Linked DNA regions of Homo sapiens. The protein of the gene in region 1 interacts with the protein of each later gene in a biochemical or structural test. Each region holds a gene or a part of one and is shown on either strand. Other genes may lie near its edges.

Region 1 (11,317 bases):
CCTATAGAATGTTCTTAGGCAGACGACATTCATTTTCAATTTAAATCATAATGAAGAAATTTCTCAGTAACTTTTCTGTGTCTCTATCTTGCATTTCTTATCATTCTTTTTCTTTATTAGGGTCATGAAAAATGTGCCTTGTTAATACTTGACAAGATACAAGACGAGAGCCTTATTAATGAAAAAAATAATGCACTGCAGACGTAAGTGTAACTACTAAAGTTGGACTTGAACCCAGGGTCATAGTCATTTATTCAATAAGTATTAAGAGCCTGCTGTGTGCCAGACTAGCTCTGGGGAGCACAGTGGTGAAAGATGCAGTCCTGGCTTCCCCTGCATGAAGGTGACAGTCACATACCTACAAGTGCTGACCAAGCTGGGCAGTTTTAGTTAGAATCCTTCTTTTGATATGTCTTCATTTAATTTTGTGAAGTCTCTCTTTTTCTTTGCTGATATTTCTGGGGTAATATTATAAATTTAGTGGGCTGTTAGAAAAATTTTATGGACTGACATATTTGGGGAAACTATTTGTATTATGTATTAGCATTATGTATTCTGACTGGAAAATGACAGTTTTGCAAATCAGTTTCCCAGAATACATTTGAAGAGTTTCTAAGCTATTTGTCTTGATTATATTTTAATATAATTCAGTGTAACCCTTGGTGTGAAAGATCTAAAAGCTGTTTCATTTTCCGCTTTAGGAAATTATTTATGCATTTGTTTTAAAGGCAAAGGAATTTTTTTCATTTAAGATTCTTAAGCCGGGCGTGGTGGCTCATGCCTTTAATCCCAGCACTTTGGGAGGCCGAGGCAGTTGGATTACTTGAGGCCAGGAGTTCATGACCCGCCTGGCCAACATGGTGAAACCCCGTCTCTACTAAAAATACAACAACAACAAAATTAGCTGGGCATGATGGTGGGTGCCTGTAACCTCAGCTACTTGGGAGGCTGAGGCAGGAGAATCACTTGAACCTGGGAGGTGGAGGTTGCTGTGAGCTGAGATCGTGCCACTGCACCACTCCAGCCTGGGCAACAAGAGCGAGACTGTCCCCCCACAAAAAAAAAAGAAAAGAAGAAGAAGAAGAAGAAGACTGTTGGCTGGGTGTCGTGGCTCATGCCTATAATCCCGGCACTTTGGGAGGCTGAGGCAAGTAGATCACTTGAGCCCGGGAGTTTGAGACCAGCCTGGCCAACATGATGAAACCCCTTCTCTACAAAAAATAAAAAAATTAGCCAGCCACAGTGGTTTGCACCTGTAGTCCCAGCTACACAGGAGACTGAGGCAGGAGAATCACTTGAGCCCAGCAGAAGGTCAAGGCTGCAGTGAGCTGTGATCGTGCCACTGCACTCCAGCCTGGGTGACAGAGTGAGACCCTGTCTCAAAAAAAAAGAAAAAGATTCTTAAGCAGTATATAGCACAATATACTGAGTTTGACATAATTCTTTAAGGTATTATAAATTCAGTAAAACATCTGTGTGCATTTAGTAGTAACAAGGAAGTTTGAAATTATACATATATATGACTGATATTAATGCCAGTCATATTGTTGAACTGTGTGAAACAGTGATTCAAATGCTGTGTTAGAAATCAAGCAGTAAAGGGCCTTCTGCAAAACACAACAAAGCTTGAGTTCTTCCTCTGTCTTCGTATTTACTGTCATTGAGATTGTTTGAGATGCAGAATATTTGTAATATCTGCAGCAAGATCTGGGCCAAACATACAACAACAGTTGGACCATTAGCACCTGGAAAAGATCTGGTCAGCATTTTTTTTTCTTAAGTAAAAACATCCATGTACTATTTGTAGAGTCTAAGTACTTCTTCCTTTTAGTGACATGGGCTAACAAAAATTCCACATTCTCACCCAAATATGTATCACAACTGATGCTCGGTCTTGTGTTTTTTAGACCCCTCCACGTCGCTGCGCGCAATGGCTTAAAGGTGGTAGTTGAGGAGTTGCTGGCCAAAGGGGCCTGTGTACTTGCTGTAGATGAAAATGGTAAGTGGAAAAAGTCAACAGCGACTGCAGGTACCTTCCATAAGCTAGTTGAAGCCAGAGGAAATGAGAAAGATAGGAGCTAGTATAAAAGGCACTTAAGAATTCTGTCCCCCTTGGAAGTCCTGTGTGTGAGAAATCAAGCAAGGATAACTTGTCCTGTCTGTCTTTTTGTAAATCACATAGTCTACCTGTAGGCCACCCAGTGCTGTCCATTTTGCATGTAATGCCAGCAGCTGGTCTCTAACTCCTCAGCACAGTGGTTAAAATATCTTAGACACACTAAGAGTTTCAAGTTGACACTCAAAATTTTAACTGCAAATGCTGAAGAGTTAGGGACTACACATGTCATTAATGCATGCTCAAGGGCTCAAATAAAAACCTGGATCTTTGATTGTATTTAAGTTCATTCTGAGATCAAACTTTTTTTTTCTTTAAGTACAGATCAGAACTCATATTCCCAGTATGGAAATGTGAGGAACAAGAGTAAAATTTCTTAATTAACGTCTAGGCTTGAAGCTTCCCCTGATCTGTATTAATGTTCCTTTCCTAATGAACTAATTCTTAACAGAAGCTTTCTACTCTGCTTCCTAAGAAATTTTGAAAGGAATGGCTACTAGAATTGTACTAAACTGCCATTTTAAGCACAATGCCTATTAACCTTGGGGAGCAAAAAAGGAACTTCTGGATGTTTATGAATTATGTAATTTTTAAAATGTGGCATTTAATTAAAGTATTATAATGTATTAATGTAACTCAATTAACTGCTTATTACAGGTATTGGAATTAGCAGCTCATGCCTATTTCTCAGAAGTAAGCAGCCATACTGATTATCATTAGCTAACTCTTATTAGTTTTGATTTTGCAGCCCCATGTATCCTAGCATGTACCCTGCTGTGTCCCCCACCTGACTCATCTAGGAAGTGCAGAAAGTTCCCTATTACTCCATTTCCTTGGTTTTCCCGCCTCACCTTCCCTCACCCTCTTAACACTACTGTAGACTTAGGGTTGGCCTGCAGAGGCCCACAGTTTTTCTCCAAAATGGTCAAAGAGAATAGAATAAATTAGTTTTGCTTTTCCTGGTGTAAATCTGCTGCATTGAAGGTTTGTTCAGCTGATAGTGACCTTAGGAACAAGAGCCCTGGGTTGGTGCGCACCTGCATCCCAAAGGCCTGGGAACGTTTGGGGCAATTTTATATAGCAGTACAACCATAATTCCTTTACTCATCACTGACTTTCGTGAAATGGAATGTTAAACTACCTGTTCATTCTTATTTGTTTTCATACCAGAAAAAGGAATGATGTCCTAAAGGGCAGGGTGGGGAGAGCAGGTCGAGTGATGATAAACAAAACAACAAAACGTTAAGTTTCATTGAGCCATTCCTCTGAATTACTGAGCAAGTGCCCTACTCACTGTGTAGTGGAAACTTTGGCCAGCTGAGAAGGCAGCTAACCCTTTTCAGGCCAGTAGGATAAAGGTTGGATAAGGAAATAATCAAGTCAAAGACTTAATCTACCTCCCCAAGGAACCTATATTATGAGTTAAGACAGTTTTCTTATCTGGATTGGATCCATTGAGTCTAAATGAGAATAACATGGTTCTAATTATGACAAGCATAGTAATTTTCTCACATCCATTACATTTTAGATTTGAGACTTTGATTGGTGAGTGGCCATTTTTAAATATTCTGTTAGGCCAGGTGTGATGGCTCACGCCTTTAATCCCAGGACTTTGGGAAGCCAAGGTGGGAGGATCGCTTGAGCCCAGGAGTTTGAGAACAGCCTGGGAAACATAGCAAGACCTTGACTCAAAAAAAAAAAACCAAAAAAAGAAAAAATCAGCCGGTAGTAGTGGCACACACCTATAGTCCCAGCTACTCGGGAGGCTGAGGTGGGAGGATTGCTTGAGCCCGGAAGACAAGGCTGTAGTAAAATCAAGGCCCCATGCCACTACAATCCAGCCTGGGTGACAGAGTGAAACTCTGTCAAAAAAAAAATTTGTTAAATTTCTCCTAAATGATTGTACATTTTTAATCACAAACAACCTGTGCTTTCCTGTCTCTGATCTACTGAAATGATTCCATTTTTCTAAAACCAGTTATTGGTGTCTATTTTCTATGAAGCATATATAAAGTGACAAAACTTCATTACTCACTTTTGCAGTCATCTAATTTTCAATATCTTTTCTAATTGGACACACAATTACCTAACAATGGAAAGTCATTGTTCTCAGAATGAGAGTCCTTCTCAGGCCCAGGCCTGAGGCTCATGGTGTGTGTGTGCTCTCAGGCGGAAACATCCTCCTGATTGTCCTGTTGCTGTTTATTGTGGAATTGTGTCCCACACCCACCCCCTTGTGTTTGTGTTCACTAAATGAAGGCTGGAATCCTGCCTAACTTTGGATGATATTGTGCTTGTCATAGTCATATGAGCTGAAAACAAAAATAAAAAGCCCTCCATAAAATGTCTCCCCCTCCCTCCCCCTCTAGCCTCACCCCTAGCATGACTTGTGAGAAGTAACTCCTCGTTTTACCTGGCATGATTTCTAACTCAACATACATCTCCGCCTGTGAGATCATCCGAGATGTACTGTGGAATGCTCGTGCCTCCTCTAGGCTCCCCAGGACTAACCACTGCCTTGTCTGCATTTACGCCCAGGTCATACCCCGGCCCTGGCTTGCGCTCCTAACAAAGACGTGGCTGACTGCCTGGCCCTCATTTTGGCTACCATGATGCCTTTTTCTCCTTCCAGTACAATGATGGCTGTCAACTTCGTTTGTTTAAAAAAAGACAATTTGAGCAGGACGACCCTCTCCAATCTGGGTAGCATGGTTAGCCTGTGCAGTAACAACGTAGGCTCGGAGGATGGGTACAATGAAAATGATTCTGATTCGGAAACGTTTTGACTTTGGACTGTAGAAGCTTTTCTTTGATCACCTGTGTTGGAGGAAAGGAAAGAAGCTTGAATTCCAGGTTTATGTTGTATTCAAGTATTATTTGGGGCCTGGGCTTCCAGAAGCTAGTAGAGAAGGAATTAATCGAGGGAGGGCAGTGAGGCTGTTGGGTGGAACAGTCACACAGATGGCCCCAGTTTTGTTTTGTTTCACATTTTCTTTAAATCTAAGATACTTCTGTGAAAGTCTACCTCTCATTTTAAATAAAGAATAAAAGATGTATTTAATTCCTGTTCTTTGGGGATAATGCAGCAGAGAGGCAGCTGTTCGCTATGAATAATTTTTCTTTTCATGTATTTAGCAGTGAGTTCTCAGAAGTATATCAGTGTGACATTCATGTCCCCTGGGAGGGAAGGGAAGAGGCAGATAGGAAATGCCTCAAACTTCTTCTCACTTTGATGTTTACTTCCTCACTAGAAGCCAAAGGTAAAGGTGTCCATCTTCAGAAATAATGCCTGTAATAATCTTTTTAGAGAGTCCAACTATTTATATCCTCTCTATAGTAAGCATTTGAATATCCAGAACTTCTTTCTGAGGATCTCTGTTAAAGTTGCCAGATGAATTGAAAAATTGAACTTGCTTTTTTTGTTTAACACAGTGTTCCCTATAACAAGCCTGTGACTAATTTTCACTTAAGTGATTGAACCCAAATTTATCTAATAACATTTCAGGTGAAAATTATATTGCACCAAAACTTTGACACAATATGCAAAAATAGTATGAAACTACCCTTTGTTAATTTATTCTTAAATCAAAATACTAACTTTTAAAAAACATCAGAATCATCAGCATTGTTCATCAGTAGTAAAATGAGCTTCTCAGTCAAGGTCATACCAAGTCAGTGAAAAGTGTGACTGCAAAAAGGAACAAAAAAAGTGAAAGCAGAAAGTAGAAATGGGTGATTTAGCATGTAAAACCGATTGCCAGTTGCTTGATGATGAAATCAACATAGTGAATACTGTGTCTGCTCCCTCTGCCAAAGCTTCTAGGTCAAATGGACCCCGTTCCACACCTGGAACCGCTGTACAAAAAGAAGAATGAGACTCTTTAAAAATTATGCACATACACATGCACACATATATGTGTGCGTGTGTATATATATATATATGTGTGTGTGTGTGTAGTTCATCAGCCAGCTACACATGAGGACCAAAATGCTTCAGTCTAAAATGGAAGATACACATTTTTTTCCTTCAAAATGCAAGTGAGAACTGAAGTAGCTTTTTTATGGAGTTAAATGTAATCTTTCTGTGTACCAGTCTTTGTTGTATTTTATATTTCTTAGGACACAGATTTCTAGTTGACCACTTAACATTTGTAACTGATGATGTGCTGACCTTTTTTTTTTTTTTTGCCAAACTAGAGAAAATGTCCATATACTTTTGCTGTAAATGTGTTTATATTTATTTGAAATGAAACAAATGGTGAGGAAACATCCATTATTTGTTCTCTATTTTAATTGCTATGTATCTTATTTAGAATAACAAAAAAAAAGTGAAAAAAAAAACACTTGACCCTGGGCTAGCCAAAAGCCCAAGGGCCAAACCTAGCATTTCCACTGCTAAGGTTTCCAGATGACCCTCAGGTTCTTCCGCGTTGGTTAGAGAGGGCTACGCATCTTCTACTGCTCAGCCACAGTCTGTAGCCAGCTTAGAGCTTAGAAGACATTGCAGTCTGGATGCCCTTCTGCGAGATGAAAACTCAGATGTGTAGTGGATCATATACACAAAGGCAGCACAAAGAAATATCTAGAAATTACCCTAAGTACACTGAAAAGCTCACATAGTCTCAGTAACCTGATGAGAAATGATGGCAGTGTGTGGGCACATGTGCCAAAAGGAGAAATAAAAATCACCAGCTCAAGTGCTATTTTCTACTTGAGGAAGAGACAGAAAAGAAATGTGTCGAATTAGAGCAGTACTCTCTGACGTTTTATAATGAGTTCCATTTCCACCCTGGAAATTGCTATTTTATAGTGTATGTGAGATATTTCAAAAATAATGTTCTATCATATCTGGATCAAAGACAGATAACTGTATTATATTTTTCATCTAGCTATAAAACTTTAATCTTACTCTTAATATCCTGGATTTAATTAAAACTCCTGTTGGGTTCTTCACAAATGAGAACTTGTTCAAAGGATTTATTGAACTGGTATTGATTTCACTGAAAATTTTCCACACCACCACCATTGTTTTTTTGAATTCTTGGTGTTGTGCTTCCCACCTTCTGTCCTTTTCGTTTGTTTAGAGAAGATGAATTTTTAAAAAGCAGATAAATTGCTAATGAGCAATAATGACCTTATCTTTACCAAAACACTGAAAATTAAGAGAGGTTCAGTGTTGAAGAAGCACAATATGCTGCGGTGTCTTTTTCTAGAAGTGAATGGAAATCTTGCTCAGTTGGCATTTCAAGCAGGAAATGAAATGCTTGCTTTAATGGCAAAGCAGCGTTAACATTTTTCCTGTCGTGTAGCAGAGAGTACAAGAATCATTTCAGCAAAGCAGTGACTCACCATGAGACGTTATCTCCATGGAGCTGCGTTTTGACTTTTCCCACTCTCTTACTCATAGAAGGAGGACAAAGGAACGAAATGAAATCATGCTCACAATGAACTGTTCATTACATCAACTGATCTCTCTCTCTCTCTCTTCCTCTCTTTCTCTTTCTCCCATACCCCAAGGCAAAATTTTTTTAAAGAAATGACTTTAAAAACTATCATTTCTGTATTTTAATTACATCTCTTAGAAATAAAATTATGTTTGCACCATAGCTTTCTAAGAAAAAAAAATGTGTTTTTAACTGAGTCTTAGTTGCTTAGTGCTTTTATTTGTGTTATTTTTAGACTGTATTTTAACCACAACTACAAGGATCATGTTTCATTGCACTTACTTATTTGCCAGTGTCTGCCTGTCTTTGCTAAATACATTACTATCTCCAAATTGCCTAAAATCTGCTATGATTCTACAGTAAATAGCTCAGGGTATTTCTATTTATCACTACTAAAAGGGCACCATAGTATGTTTTGGTACTTTAGGCAGTAAACACTGCTTGGTTTATCATTTTGTTATTAAATTAGAACAAGAACATCAAATGGATTTGCTGCACTAGTTATTCTTTGTACTGTTGAGCAACTTGGTGTGCTTATATGTTGTGTTGGTTGAAGAACTCATCCGTTTTATTGTCTTGTAATATGAAGTTAGAGTGCCTTTTTATATTTGTATATTCTGAAAATGTTCTGTGGAATGTTTTGTATTTTTTCATTTGAGTGTTATCAGAGCAATATGATACCAGTGAGTTTTCATTTCAACTTTTCTTTGAATGTATAAAGTGTCTTTTTTCCTATTTCCCCTTGTACTTGCATTGAAATGAATATGAAAATGCTTAAGTTTTCTATAGGAATTGTTTGATTTTGCAGTGCTAAAATGCTTTCGTCTTACGAAACTATAAACCATAGGTCAGTATTATAGGGGAAAAGCATTTTAAGATAGTGACAATCTGAGTGTTTGTATAAAATGTAATTCTATGCGTTTCTTATGTGATCTAAAAATTCAATGCAAATATCTTTTATTTGGTAGTTTTGTCTACATATTTTATGCTCTAGCATGTGCAATATATCTTTGTAAAGCACGATGATACAAATCTGGTGCCAGTGTTATATTTTGCATAACATATTTGTAACAGCATAAAATATTGTTTGATGATTTCAGTGGGATTTTGTCTATAATGTTTTCTTATGTAAATTGGAGTTGAATGACTCTGGTAAATGTCATGACTGTAAAAATGGGGAAAATGACTTTTAGTTCAGTGAATGACTTTGAAACAATCTGAATCTTCTCAAGCACAGTTTAATACTTTTGCAACTACTGAATGCTCTAATAACGTAATGAAGTACTTAACTGTAATATACTATGGAAATGCATTCAGATGGTTATTTTTACAAATAAAAACGGTACAAATATTGTTGGAATTTGTGTTTTAATTTTTCCAATTTATGCTTTTTCTAAATTATGCTAATTTAAATCTTTGCACCCCCTCAAGCCAAATTAACTTTAAATTTAGAAAATAATCAAGATAAAAGTGTATCTCCAGATTCACGATTTATGTTTGTGTTATCACAATTAGAGAAAAAATTCAAACATATATGCTTGTGTTTATTATATGTATTTATGCTTCCAACTTTTTTCCATAAAGGGTTTTGTTTTGTTTTGTTTTGTTTTGTTTTTTTCTGCTCTGTTGTCCAGGCTGATGGGCAGTTGTGAGATCTCGGCTCACTGCAGCCTCGACCTCCTGGGCTGAAGTAATCTTCCTACCTCAGCCTCCCGAGTAGCTGGGACTACAGATGTGCACCACTATGCCTAGCTAATTTTGTTTTTTTGTAGAGATGGGGTCTCACTATATTGCCCAGGCTGGCCCATAAAGGATTTGAGCTGGGTTATGACAAAAGACGTGATAAACTAGAAATAGAAAAATGAGAACAGAGAAAAAGAATACAAACAGATAAAGGAACCATAAAATTTAAAACAGTATCTGTGACTGAACTTGTGTTTGCTCTCAGCTTCCTTGCAGCCAAGGTAAGAGGAGAAATGTGATCAGTTATATAGTCCACATCAAAAAAGAGGAAGCTTATTAGGTCCTCAAAATTGTGAAATCAACCATGCCTAACTTTGGTATTGTCACCATTACCCTTCAGGGACTTTATAACAACACAAGAACCTCCATCTCTGCACTATCCTTAAAGGTATCCATAGAATTTCCTTCCCCATCTATCTCACCATCCAAAATTTTTCATCTTGAGTAGTAACTTCAGGGACAGTCTCTGGAAGCACTAAGGAACAAATTCCTAATGATGGAGTTTCCAGCTATTGACGAAGAGACTTGGGGGTGGTGCCTGCCTGAGTTCCCCAAATCAAGTAGTATAGAATGTTAGCAGTTATTACAGTCCAGCCCAGTCACATCACCAGCTCTTTCAGGAAGAAACTGAATCCTAGAGAAGTTATACAACTTGAATTTTTGAAGATAGTGATCTGATGATACCACATCTGCCTCTAGATGTTCTCTCTTCGATGCCATCTTGCCATATAATGTTTTGTTTTTTTCTGCCAGAAATGTTAAGGGAGGTTTTGTACTCAGCCCTGCCTCCCTTCTTATTCAAATATACAAATCTGGGTGCTTTTCAATCTTAAAGAATGTAAAACAGGAGTCACACCACAAGTGAGTGCTTCCTGTTGTTTAGAGTAGACTGGGTATATTAGTTATCTATTGCTGTGTAACAAATTACCCCAAAACTTAGTGGCTTAAAACAACAAATGTTTCCTAACCCACAGTTTCTATGAGTCAGCCCTAGTTTAGCTGGGTCTTCTGTTCCAGGGTCTCTCACAGCCTGTAATCATGGTGTTGGCCTGGGAACGATCCATTTCTAAGTTCACTCATATGGTTGTTGGCAGGATTCTTCTCATGGGTTGTTACACTGAGGGCCTCAGTTCCTTGATGGCTGTTGGCTGCCGTCCGTTCCTTGCCAGATGGGCCTTCCCATAGGGAAGCTCACAACATGGCAGCTTGCCTTGCGGGCGAGCAGGCTGAGAAAAGCCAGGGAGACAAAGAGCAAGACAGAGTCACAGATTTTTGCAACTGAATTTCAGAAGTGATATTTCATCATTTTTCTCATATTCTATTCATGAGAAGCAAGTTACTAAGTCCAATCTATACTCAAGGGCAAGGGATTCCCCAAGGGTGTGAACAGCAGGAACAGCAATTACTAGGAGCCATTTTTGGAAGCTACTCGCCACCCTGGTCTATCACGGTGTCCTTTGAGGCTGTAACATCATACTAATACACCTTCTTCCCAGTCATTGCTAAGGAAATTGCTTGCTTGACTGACTGAACTCACCCTTTCAAGGAAAATGTAGAGATCCCTAATTTTAATTGTGTTCTCATAAGCAGAGAAATGTGATAATGGCCTCCACTGTGGTAATTATATTTTTGAACATTGATGTGGCACTTTGTCTTCAAACTGCTTGTCAAAGGTTCCTTCACGCTAATTCCATTTGGTAGGTTTAGATCCCTGTATAAGTATCCCTCACTTAACACACTTAATGTGTTCCAGAATTAGTTTGCAAAGCACAAAAGCATTAAGCTAAAAGGCTATTAACATAAAAACATTGTGGGTAAAAGTACTATATGAATTGTCTCTTTAGCAAATTTCATCCTGAAGGTACATTTGCTGTAAAATATAAAGCACCAAGATAATGGCTGTGCCATTCATTAATTCTCAGGCACTCTAGGGAGTGATTGGAAATGTGTGGGCATTTGTAGTTGGCACAATGGCTGGGGGGTGGGCAGGGCTGCTACTAGAGTATTTATAGTT
Region 2 (11,698 bases), on another chromosome or scaffold:
TCGAACTCCCAAAGTGCTGGGATTACAGGCGTGAGCCACCATGTCCGGCCTAGTAAGTTTATTTTTCAATGTGATGTTATTTGAATCTCTGTTGTCAAACTTGTAGTCCTAAGTATTTCACCGAACCCTCCTAGTGTCTTAATACACTGCTCTATGGAACAGGCTTTTGTTTTGGTTCCGGATATTGGTTTTCTGTGTCTTTCCTCTTTGCCTCAGTTGGTTTCACTAGTGGTTTCTTAAGTGTATTAATATTTATAAACCAACTTTTTTTTTTTTTTTTATGAGACAGAGACTCACTGTGTTGCCCATGCTGGAGTGCAGTGGTGCGATCTCGGCTCACTGCAAGCGCCGCCTCCCTGGTTCAGGCCATTCTCCTGCCTCAGCCTGCCGAGTAGCTGGGACTACAGGCACCCGCCACCCCGCCTGGCTAATTTTTTGTATTTTTTAGTAGAGACGGGGTTTCACTGTGTTAGCCAGGATGGTCTTGATCTCCTGACCTCGTGATCCGCCTGCCTCGGCCTCTCAAAGTGCTGGGATTACAGGTGTGAGCCTCTGCGCCCAACCCTATAAACCAACTTTTATCCTTGATTTGTTTCTGTTGCTTTTTTTTTCCTATTTCATTGATGTCTGCTCTTTATTACTTTCTCATTCTTTCATTTTGATCGTTTTTAATTCTTGAGAAGGGAGTTTATGTGATTGACTGTCAATCTTTTTTTCTATTCTAACATACTCCTTTAAGGCTGTAAATTTCTCTCTAAGCAGGGATTTATCTGACAGCCCACATTTTCCATCAGGTGTTTCCAAACCCTGTGTCTGCAGCCGCATTGACCTCCCAGTGTCTCCACCCTGTATCACCTACAGCCATGCCAGGCTTGTGTGTCTCCATCCTTGTGCAACAGAGACCCTGTCTCTATTTAAAAAAAAAAAAAGAAGAAACCTAAAAACAGACTGGCACTTAAAAGAGTTGTGCTTCATTTTTTGACTTTCCGTATTAATTTTCTGTTTGTTTGTTCCTTAAACAAGCTGCCACTGCTGCTGATTCAACATGTTTCATTTTATTCTTTTTTTTTTTTTTTTTTTTTGAGACAGAGTTTTGCTCTTGTTGCCCAGGCTGGAGTGCAATGGCGTGATCTCGGCTCACTGCAACCTCTGCCTCCCGGGTTCAAGCAATTCTCCTGCTTCAGCCTCCCAAGTAGCTGGGATTACAGGCATGCACCACCATGCCTGGCTAATTTTGTATTTTTAGTAGAGACGGGGTTTCTCCATATTGGTCAGGCTGGCCTGGAACTCTCAACCTTAGGTGATCCGCCTGCCTTGGCCTTCCAAAGTGCTGGGATTACAGGTGTAAGCCACTGGGCCTGGCCCATTTTATACATTTTTAATGTGTATTCTTGTTTTTGGAAAATGTGAACAGAGTACTATTAAACTCTTTTAGCGTCGGTGTAGCAAGGAGGTAAAGAAACAAACAACAAAACAAACAAAAAATCCCTCTTTGTGAAATAGGATTGAATATCGTTGGATTGAGCACTTACCAAGCAACTGTGCCAGGGTTTGTGTCCTTCATTTAATTCTTACAAGCCTGAGTGTTCCGTATTTTAACTTTATAGGTGAACAAATAGAAGCTGAGGGTGAAGGACCTACAGCTGTCACCTTCATCTCTTCTCAACACTGCCAGATGTCTCCTTGGATCTCCCAGACAGACAACAAGGGGCATCTCTGGTTTCTCGGTGCCCGCTAGAAACCTAGGGTCATTTCAAGGCATTATGCAAATGAGAAGCTTTCCTTCTCTTCACCTCATCTCCTGATCTGCACAAAAATGACTGTAGGACCCACTGTAGGTACCAATGTAGGCACCAATCCTCAGTTTACCACCTGCTCTCTACTTGCTTCCCTGCCATAACTTTCTAAAAGGGATGTGAGCCATGTTTAAAGTCACCTGGTCACTGGAGAGATCTTGTTCTACCCTCTACATCAGTGGTTGCCAACCTTTTTGGCACCAGGGATGGGTGTTGTGGAAGACAATTTTTCCACGGACTGGGGGGATGGGGGGAATGGTTTCAGGATAAAACTGTTCCACCTCAAATCATCAGGCATTAGATTCTCATAAGGAGCACACAACCTAGATTGCTAGCATGCGCAGTTCACAATAGGGTTCTTTCTCCTGTGAGAATGGCGTGCCGCTGCTGATCTAACAGGAGGCAGAGCTCAGGCGGTAATGGGAGCAAGGGGGAGCGGCTATAAATACAGCTCGCCACTCACCTCCTGCTGTGCAGCCCGGTTCCTAACAGGCCATGGACAGTACTGGTCTGTAGCCCAGGAGTTGGGGAATCCTGCTCTACAGAGTTTCCAACCTCAGAGATGAAGCATCCCCTCTGTATACAAGTCAGAAAGAAATTATTCAAGTAGGAGAATTAAAACAGGATCACAGAGAGGGAGGCTGAAGAATTTGACTTTCTGTGTTTACTTGTATGAGGAAAAACAGCACATAGAGGCAACCACAGTATTTAATTTGTTTGGATAATAGTTAACAGATAAACAGGTACACCCCATATACAATTACCAATACTTTTGATACAGTTCATATTTCAGTACATCAACACTATTTTATTTACACTCTATTTATGTACATTAACATCTTTCTAAAGTCAGTGCATTGTCAACAAGTTTTATACAGTAATTTACAAGGTGAATGTAGTTAATAGTTAATTTAATAAATTTTCCGCTAGTTCATGAATTAAAAAAATTAATTACAACCAGTATAACACAAATCACACAACATTAGTAGATTGTGCTACCTGTTTAAATAAAACATCTGTAAAGAAATTATTTAAAATCTTCCACTTTTTAATGGGACATGTCCAGGTAGGAATGGACAGATTTTATTTACTGAAAATCTTGAAACTATAAAGTGTGCATTTTGTCTGACTTTATTACATTAGACAATTTAGGCCACTCCTACCTACTTGCAATTATATTTTTTCTGAAAAGGATTTCAATTTAGGTAGCCATTTAAGATAACCTTTCCAAATGCTCTGAGAACTAGATATTAATAGTTACTGGCCTCAGATATCAGAACACAAATGCTTAGTTACATTGGTAATTACTACCTATGAGGAAGAAAGGGTAATGGAATCTGGCAATGAGAATCAACTTGCAGGGTCTAAATGAATAAACAAAGACCAAAAATAAGGTGAAACATTTCCTTCAAGTATATATTAAGAAACTACATGAAAAAAATTCTACCTCAAATAAATAATATTTATACTTTTGTTCCAATCTTAAATAATTAGAGGGAAAAAATGAAGTAAGCAAAGAAACATAACTTTCAATGACTACTGTAAAATTTAAAAAAAGACAAATATCAAAATAAAAAAACCAGTGGACATGCAAACAAAGCAAAACTAAAGTTGACTTCCTAAAACCACCAATTTCATTAAATATACTTATGAACTCCTAATGTCTGGGATGTGTTTTGTTTGTAATTTATAGCCCTTAGAGCCATCAAATACACACAAGCAAGTTCATTTGCATGTGTTCTCTCTTTTTTAAAGTGCAAAACAAACACAGAAAAGAATAACCACTAATTGTGAAACGTGATCTAGCTCCGATGCCGCTTACCTTCCCAGAAGCTCTTGTTGCAACATGTGCATGTGAAGATGGTGCAAATATTGGCAACTGCTCCCCTTCCCTCAGCATGGGCGGGGCCGGGGGTGCAGAATACATTTCTGAGGATACTTGAAGTAGCCTAAATGTAAGATGCCTCCACTGGGAGGGCCCTGGTAGCTGGATTTCCCAGGATGTTTTTCTTTCTACTGGGTCTCCCTCTGGTTGGAAGGCACATAGCTCTTAAGAGAGCCTCCCTTTCAGACTGACCACTCTATGCCCCTGCCACCAATGACTGGTTGTGTCTCAAACGTAAACACAATGGCAAAAACAAAAAGCAAGAAAAAGAAAGGGTATGGAAACAGTTTAAAAAATAAATTGAAAAATCCTTGTCCATGCCGTAAGAATCATTTGCACACCTTCATGATCTTGCTTTCTCCATCTTGTCAATATAATGGAATAAAACTTCAGGAAAAAGGAGGTAGCGTATCATGTCGTCCCTAGACAACATTATAATTGTTTGTTTTTTCCTCTGACTCCAAGGAAATCTTTAATATTTGTTATGATTATTGGTAAACTCTATACTCACTACATATTTGTTCATATCTGGACAAGCACAATTCAATTCTTATTTGGTCCCAGGTGGCTGGTGCCACACCTTTTGTTTACAGGCTAATGGTGGGATCTGCCTGAAAGTTCTCTATCAGACAGCTTGTATGAGACTTCAAAATACAATTGTTTCTACTCTTCAAGTTAACTATTTTAATTAGAATTTTTGTTCTAACAGGATAAAATAACTACATTTAGCTTGTCTTTCAGTGACACTTTTGCCAAGTATCAGCTACAAGGAGTCATCTCCCTCGCCACCAAGCTGTCTAGCAGCCAGAGTGGTAGCTTTACTGTAACATAGAGTACTTTTCGTAATCAGACTCAGAGTCTTCATCCGTACTGCTTGTGTCTGCCATCTTTTTGCCATCAATCTTTGGCAGAAATTGTGCGTAGTCTATCCCCTGCTGCTCATAGAAAAGAATGTAGGCAGAGTCGGTGTCAATTTCATCAGGGTGAAGTTCCTGAAAGGGCAAGAAAAACCTTTAACAAAAAGCCATCACTATTATGACTCTAAATCCTTGCCAGGAAAGGGAAGACCAACCCTCTGTAATTACTAACCTGATTGCTTCCAATAAGCTCACTAGTTTGGCTGTCTCACACCTGCCCCTTTAAAATGAGCCCCATTATTTCCAATGTTTGCTTTGGGGAAAATATTTTGACCATAGACAAGTCAAAACAGAATGACCTAAAACCCCATCAAATTCTAATTATTTATTTTGTATGTATTTATTTTTTTGAGATGGAGTCTCGCTCTGTCACCAGGCTGGTGTGCACTGGTGCAATCTCAGCTCACTGCAACCTCTGCCTCCCGGGTTCAAGCGATTCTCCTGCCTCAGCCTCCCGAGCAGCTGGGACTACAGGCATGTGCCACCACATCTGGCTAATTTTTTGTAGTTTTAGTAGAGATGGGGTTTCACCATATTAGCCAGGATGGCCTCTATCTCCTGACCTCATGATCCGCCCACCTTGGCCTCCCAAAGTGCTGGGATTATAGGCATGAGCCACCGCGCTCGGCCCAACCCCATCAAATTCTAACAGTCTAGAAGATAGGAGCTTTTTGCATTAACTAACTACTTTTTTTTTTTTTTTTTGAGACAGAGCCTTGCTCTGTTGCTCGGGCTGGAGTGCAGTGGTGCAGTCTTGGCTCACTGCAACCTTCACCTCCCAGGTTCAAGCCATTCTCCTGCCTCAGCCTCCCGAGTAGCTGGGATTACAGGCATGCGCCAACATGCCCAACTAATTTTTGTATTTTTAGTAGAGATGGGGTTTCACCATGTTGGCCAGTCTGGTCTCGAACTCCTGACATCAAGTGATCCACCTCCTAAGCCTGCCTCAGCCTCCCAAAGTGCTGGGATTACAGGCATGAGCCACTGCGCCCGGTCAACTAACTCTTTATTTTTCCTCACTACTCATGTTTTCATTCCCTGCTCTGCATATCACTTTTGTTCCTTTAATACTGACAGCATCTATATATTAATTCTAACAGAAATATCTATTTCCTATTCAAGAGATAGTCCATTATTTCAACAAATGTTCCCCAGTTCTGTTGATATTCTAACTTTCATTCAAAGATTGAGAATGTTTACCTCACAGCTGCTGTCATTATAACAGTACCACTTGCAGTTTGGGTTTTTGGCATAAGTGATGTAATGGCCCCCACTCAGAATTCCTGAATGGCACTGTAAGAGATAAGAGAGTGGAGGTATGTTAGTAGTTAACTGTACTATGGCCAGGGTATAGCACTAAGATCTGAGCAGGAGAACACTGATCATGTAAATGATCAATAGGTGAGAAAATATTTTAGAACCCTCTTTCTCTAAAACCAAAATAAGCAAAAAGCAAAATACAAAAGTCATAAGCTCCAAGTCTTGTGTGGATAAACAATCATTTTATAATTGTAATTACTATTATTATTATTATTATTTTGAGACAGGGGCTTGCTCTATCACCCAGGCTGGGGTGCAGTCGAGTGATCACAACTCTCTAAAGACTTGACCTTCTGGGCTCAGGTGATCCTTCTGCCTCAGCCTTTCAAGTAGCTGGGACCACAGGCACATGCCACCATACCTCGCTCCATTTTAAAATTATTTGTAGAGACGGGGCCCAAGCAGCTGGTCTCAAACTCCTGGGCTCAAGCGATCCTCCTGTCTCAGCCTTCTAAAGTGCTGGGATTACAGGTGTGAGCCACCACACCACATCTGTGAGCCCAGATTTCAATGTTAACTTTGTCTATCACTAAGCTCAATGCTAGGAAATTAGCAGGACCTGAAAAATACTTGCTGATGAATACATGAAGACAAGTGAACAAAACACAGACCACTCTCTGAAAACCGTATAATAAACCACTTACTGAAATTGCATATAGATTATAAATAGGCTTAATATGAGTGTCTTCTCTTTGGTCATCAGTGCTGTCTTCTTCACTGTGGTTTCCAAGCTGACCATTGCTGTAGCCATCGCCACAGCCATTGCCACATGCTTCATGCTCATAAAGGAATCCATTGGCCAAAGCTACCTCATGGTCCTGAGGAGTGACCAGCTCTGGTTGGCTGCCCCCCCGCATATGCCCTCGGCTCAAGGCGTCAGCCAGCTCACAGATCTGCCCAGCCCCATTCTCTTTGCTGGCATCCAAGTTCTTCTTACTACTTGACGGCTTATTTTTGCTGCCAATCTGGGGCAGCCGGAGCCTCCCTTTGCTCCTCCCCAAAGTCCGTGGGCTGCTATTAGGGCTGCTGTTTTTGCTGGAGGGACAGCTGGTTCCACTTTTTCTTGATGAAGAAGGAGAACCTGTGAACAGGACAGAAGAAAAGATTCACAAATCCAAATGCCAGAAAGTAAGCCAGCCCCAAATGCTAACTCCGAGGTTAGCTTTGCAACTGTACACACAAAGGTAAAGACAGGGGAGTCATGACTGGCTACCCTTTGGTTCCTATTGTGTAGCCAGTAAGTTACATTTTTGTCTTCTTCAATGCCAAGTCCCTATAAGCAACAATGTCCTGAAAATGTAAAGTGCATTATAGGGACTCAGAAAACAGCAGAAAGATGATTATGATTTATGATGATTCAGTTGAAAAAAATCCAACTATTAGAGTAAGGAGTTTTCCAAATACATATTCCTCTCCTTTGTAAAATTAGACAAAAAATGTGACCACCATTTACTGAGTACTTCCTATTGTTAGGCATGGTACTGGGAATTTCCTGCTGTCCGTTGTTACCTCTGTGTCTCACAAAAATCCTGCAAGGCTTTAAACCTTTTAGTTATAGCCTCTTACCCCTACCCCCTTTTATACCTTTAAAAATTATTGAGAACCTTTAGAACTTTTATGTGAATTTTATCTATCAATATTTCCTGTATTAGAAATTAAAACTGAGGAATGAAAAAGTACAATACATTAGCACAGACTTCACTGTCAAAGTGACGATATTATTCCATGTCATGTTTTCTCTTACACCATTGTACATCTGTGAGAGAAAAAAAGTGAAAAAGCACATATTTTCTCAGTATTTTTATGAAAATCATTTTGGGCCAGGCACAGTGGCTCACACCTGTAATCCCAGCACTTTAGGAGGCCGAAGCAGGAGGTTCACTTGGGTGCAGGAGTTCGAGCCCAGCCTGGGAAACATGGCGAAGCACCATCTCTACAAAAAATACAAAAATTAGCCAGGTGCAGTGGTGCATGCCTGTAGTCCCAGCTACTCAGGAAGCTGAGGTGGGAGGATTGATTGACCCCAGGAGGTCCAGGCTGCAGTGAGCTGTGATCTGTGTTGCACCACTGCACTCCAGCCTGGGTGACAGAGTGAGACCCTGTCTCAAAAAAACAAAAAATAAAATAAATAAATAAAAAAGGAGTTTTGATCCTCTAGACCCCCTGAAAGATGGGGAACCTCAGAACTTTCACTATAAGGGGACAAGACAGCAGCTACCATTCCTGTTTACCATACATCAGGCACTGTGTGAAGTGCTTTACTCTCCATGTGTCAAACTCTCAACTCTGTAAACCTGGCATTATCTCCATTTTACAGATGAGGAAATAGATTCAGGGAGGCTGAATCTCTTGCTACAACTTACATAGCTCAAATACAGATAGGTCTGATTCCAGATAGGTTCCTTCCACCCAACCAACCTGATGTTCCAGAACAGAAGACAGAGAAACATATGTAGCCTACAGGAGTCCCAAGAAAGCAACTGCATAAGGCCCCCAGGCCTCACCTTTTGGGCTGCTGCTGATGTTAGCGCTGAGTGAGGATGGGCTTTTGCTTAGGAGCATGTCCTCTTTTCCAGCCGAACTCTGCGCATCCACTTTCTTCACCTCTCTTGCCAGAATCCTGGGCTTGGAGAGCTCATCCCCCTGGGGTGTGAGTGGTTTATGCTGGCAGAGGGCCGGGTCTCGTGGTACCAAAAAAGCACTCGGATCAAAACTTTCCCGAAGAAATCTGACAATTTTCTGTGATTTTATCCACTGATCATTTACAAATTGAAATCGCTTAAGGTGAATAATCTGGAGAAGTAAAGGTAGAAAACATCGCATTAAAGGGTTCTGAAGATACAAAATTTACATGGAAAAAACAAGTCAAATACATGTGAATGTTTGGAAATATATAACAGAACATTTACTCTTCATTATTTTTTAAAGACTTCAAAAATATGGTTTCATAAAGGCCTCTACACAGGCCCTAGTGCACTGGCGTCCTTGTGCACACGCGCTCAACTCAGCAGTGTGGCCACAGCCACGTGACTATGTGCAGTGGGTATTGCCCCCGGGCTCAGTTGCTCTTCTAGAGTCCACAAAGGGCTAGCCTAAGCTTCCTCTCTCCACAGAGCCAGAAGTTCACCCTCTCCTGAAGTTCACATTCACCACGTTGTACCCCTTGTGGCAGTTCTCACATCGCACTGAATTGCAGTTACTGGGCTACATGATTGATCTCTTCTTCTAGGTTATGAGCTTTTTAGGAAAAGGAACTACCAAATATTTGTAGAAAGATTCATCTCTGTATTCAACATAAAAACCTTGTACAGAATGTGTTTTAAACACTGCTGCAGGAAAAGTCTTATTCTCAAAAATAACAAAACCTCCTGTTTGTTCATGTCTTCTTTCTTTTATGCTAGATTCCTGCTCTCTCAGAGGCAGGACCGTAACATACCAGGAAGGGTGGAAGCCTCCAGAGATCCAGCTTCTTTGTTGCTAAGCAGTGGGTCTTACACTTGGAACAGTAGTACATCTCACTTTCCCCTAGCTCTTCCTCACTGGTGAAAGCACGGAGACAGCTGTCCAGGTTGATGGGCTCGGCTTGCGCTCGCCGACTCTGCTCCACACTCTCATGCTTATCTACAACCTGTAGGTAGAGGGAACAGGAGGAAAGGGGTGTGTGGGAAGGCATTTAAACTGGTGATCTAGCTATGCATCAACCGCTCGGTCACTCACCCTTATTTTACTCTTTATAAGGAAAAAGAAAATACAACTGGCTGGGTATGATGGCTCAGGCCTGTAATCCTAGCACTTTAGGAGGCCGAGGTGGGGGGAATCGCTTGAGTCCAGGAGTTCAAAACCAGCCTGGCCAACAGAGTGAGACCCTGTCTCAGTAAAAGAAAAATCTAAAAATTAGCTGGGCATTGTGGCGCATGTCTGTAGTCCCAGCTACTCAGGAGGATTGCTTGAGTCTGGGAGGTAGAGGTTGCAGTGAGCTGTGATTACGCCACTGCACTCCAGCCCGGATGACAGAGAGAGACCTTGTCTCAAAAAAAGGGAAAAGAAAACACAACCCAAACTAGAGTCCGAGCAAATACAACACCTACACATTTATTCACAAATGTTACATCAGTAACATTCTGGATAAAATTTCTGTTTATATGACCATAACTTTTCTTGAAAGATTTTTGAATGCTTCAAAATGACAAAAACAAAAAGAATTGAATTTATTTAACAACTTTGGAATCCTATAAGGGGTTACATGTGAGCTGGCCCTCAAGCCAGGGGTGCTGATAGTAAGCCATTTATTTTTAATCAGAAAGCCAGAGCATTATTAGTATGCTGCAGAGTTTACGAGGCTAGGAGAAATAACATGAAACACAGAAACCAGAGCTGGATGAAATGAGGGCACAGAAAAGCTCACCATGAGAAGACAACACAGCAGAGCATGAAACACCACAGGGTACAACTCATTTGCATCTGATCCCATGTAACACAGAGTTATCAGAATACCAAGTCTATAATTATCTGTCTCCTCCCTCATGGGGCCTTTTTATCTGAGATGGCAACAAAAGGAAGAACAAGCTCAAGAGTGTGCTGCTTTTGTTGAGAAGGCCTCTAATACCCACCCAAACCTTTGGGGTCCTGTTAATCAGCATGTTAGGCTGTGGAGCAAGAAGGAGTCAAGTGTAAGAAAGGAGAGAGAGCAAAGAATGGGCGGGGTGCAGGGATGTATGTTGGGGGTGGTGTAGAATGAAGAAGGAGAGAAGGAAGGATCTAGAATGCAGCAGAAGAGAAAGAATTTTTCCCTCTCCATGCCTGGCTGCTACCTGACAAACAATCAAGAACCATAGAGCTGGGATCCTTCTGTTTGTCCCTCTAATGTATGGGAAGGTGGGTGAAGCATCAGGGTTATGAATGCTACCGTTAAGACTTCACACAGTATATATTTGTGTCCCAAAGCACAGCCCGGACCACAAGGCCCACACTGACTGCCTCTCTGTGGCAAATGTCACATATGTCCATCACCCACCCTATTTATTGCTCCTCCCTTCCAGAGGTGAACTTCCTCCATGAATTTCCCTTCCTGAAACTCATGATGGGAACCTTAGGCTGCCTGGAATACAAATTGGCACAGCTCAAGACATTCAGCTTAGCATGGGTTTTCAGGCGAGACTTTTTCCCTACATGAGAGTCACGAGGCTGTCAAATGCTGTTATAAACTAGCAAGGTTGGGTTTGATCATGCAGTTACGGTTCTAGCACTGCATAACTACCCAGGCTAAAGAGCTCATTTAAAAAGGGGAACTTAGAGGAAAATTCTTTTTTTAGAAAAGGAAATCTGGCTTGGACTTGGGTTATAGACTTCTTTTTTGAGTACAAATTCTGTAGTAACAAGATATTAACTGTCATCATCTTTTGAACTGGTCACTCAAGGAAAAAACACGTGCTTCAAAAGGAAACGTGCTGTATCATCGTTGTTGGAATGAGTAGAAAAAGGGGTGTATCATATACGATAGTGTTTCCTTTCTCATGGCCAGTTAAACATTATCTCTATTATCTCTACCAGGAATACTTTATGGCCAACCACAAATGAGAGTAAGCTAGTAAAGAATGTTGAATTTTATTGACCATATTTTCTGGGGAACACAGGCTACAGTGCTAGAGGAAGACAGGGAGGAAAGATGGCTGATAAACAACATATTTGTGGACTGTACTGACAGTAATTTCTATTTATCAGTAAAAGTTCCCAAAGTGATAAAGATTCCCTTTACCTCTTGGGATCTATGCTTAGATCCT

What was found.
Region 2: the proteins of ANKRD44 (region 1) and USP6 form a complex in vitro, tested with the Homo sapiens proteins (one study listed by BioGRID and IntAct).

The regions. Positions count from the first base shown.
Region 1 is NC_000002.12:196,984,265-196,995,581, reverse strand, and holds the end of ANKRD44 (serine/threonine-protein phosphatase 6 regulatory ankyrin repeat subunit B), read left to right. Parts: intron 1-120; coding exon 121-203; coding exon of another isoform or gene 204-207; intron 208-1,907; coding exon 1,908-1,999; intron 2,000-2,773; coding exon of another isoform or gene 2,774-2,826; exon of another isoform or gene 2,827-4,435; intron 4,436-4,485; coding exon of another isoform or gene 4,486-4,502; exon of another isoform or gene 4,503-4,654; coding exon of another isoform or gene 4,655-4,902; exon of another isoform or gene 4,903-5,932; coding exon 5,933-5,991; 3' UTR 5,992-8,920; downstream 8,921-11,317. UniProt on the Homo sapiens protein: Putative regulatory subunit of protein phosphatase 6 (PP6) that may be involved in the recognition of phosphoprotein substrates.
Region 2 is NC_000017.11:5,165,780-5,177,477, reverse strand, and holds the end of USP6 (ubiquitin carboxyl-terminal hydrolase 6), read right to left. Parts: intron 9,547-11,698; coding exon 9,355-9,546; intron 8,712-9,354; coding exon 8,423-8,711; intron 7,000-8,422; coding exon 6,563-6,999; intron 5,892-6,562; coding exon 5,799-5,891; intron 4,674-5,798; coding exon 4,500-4,673; 3' UTR 2,487-4,499; downstream 1-2,486. UniProt on the Homo sapiens protein: Deubiquitinase with an ATP-independent isopeptidase activity, cleaving at the C-terminus of the ubiquitin moiety. Catalyzes its own deubiquitination. In vitro, isoform 2, but not isoform 3, shows deubiquitinating activity.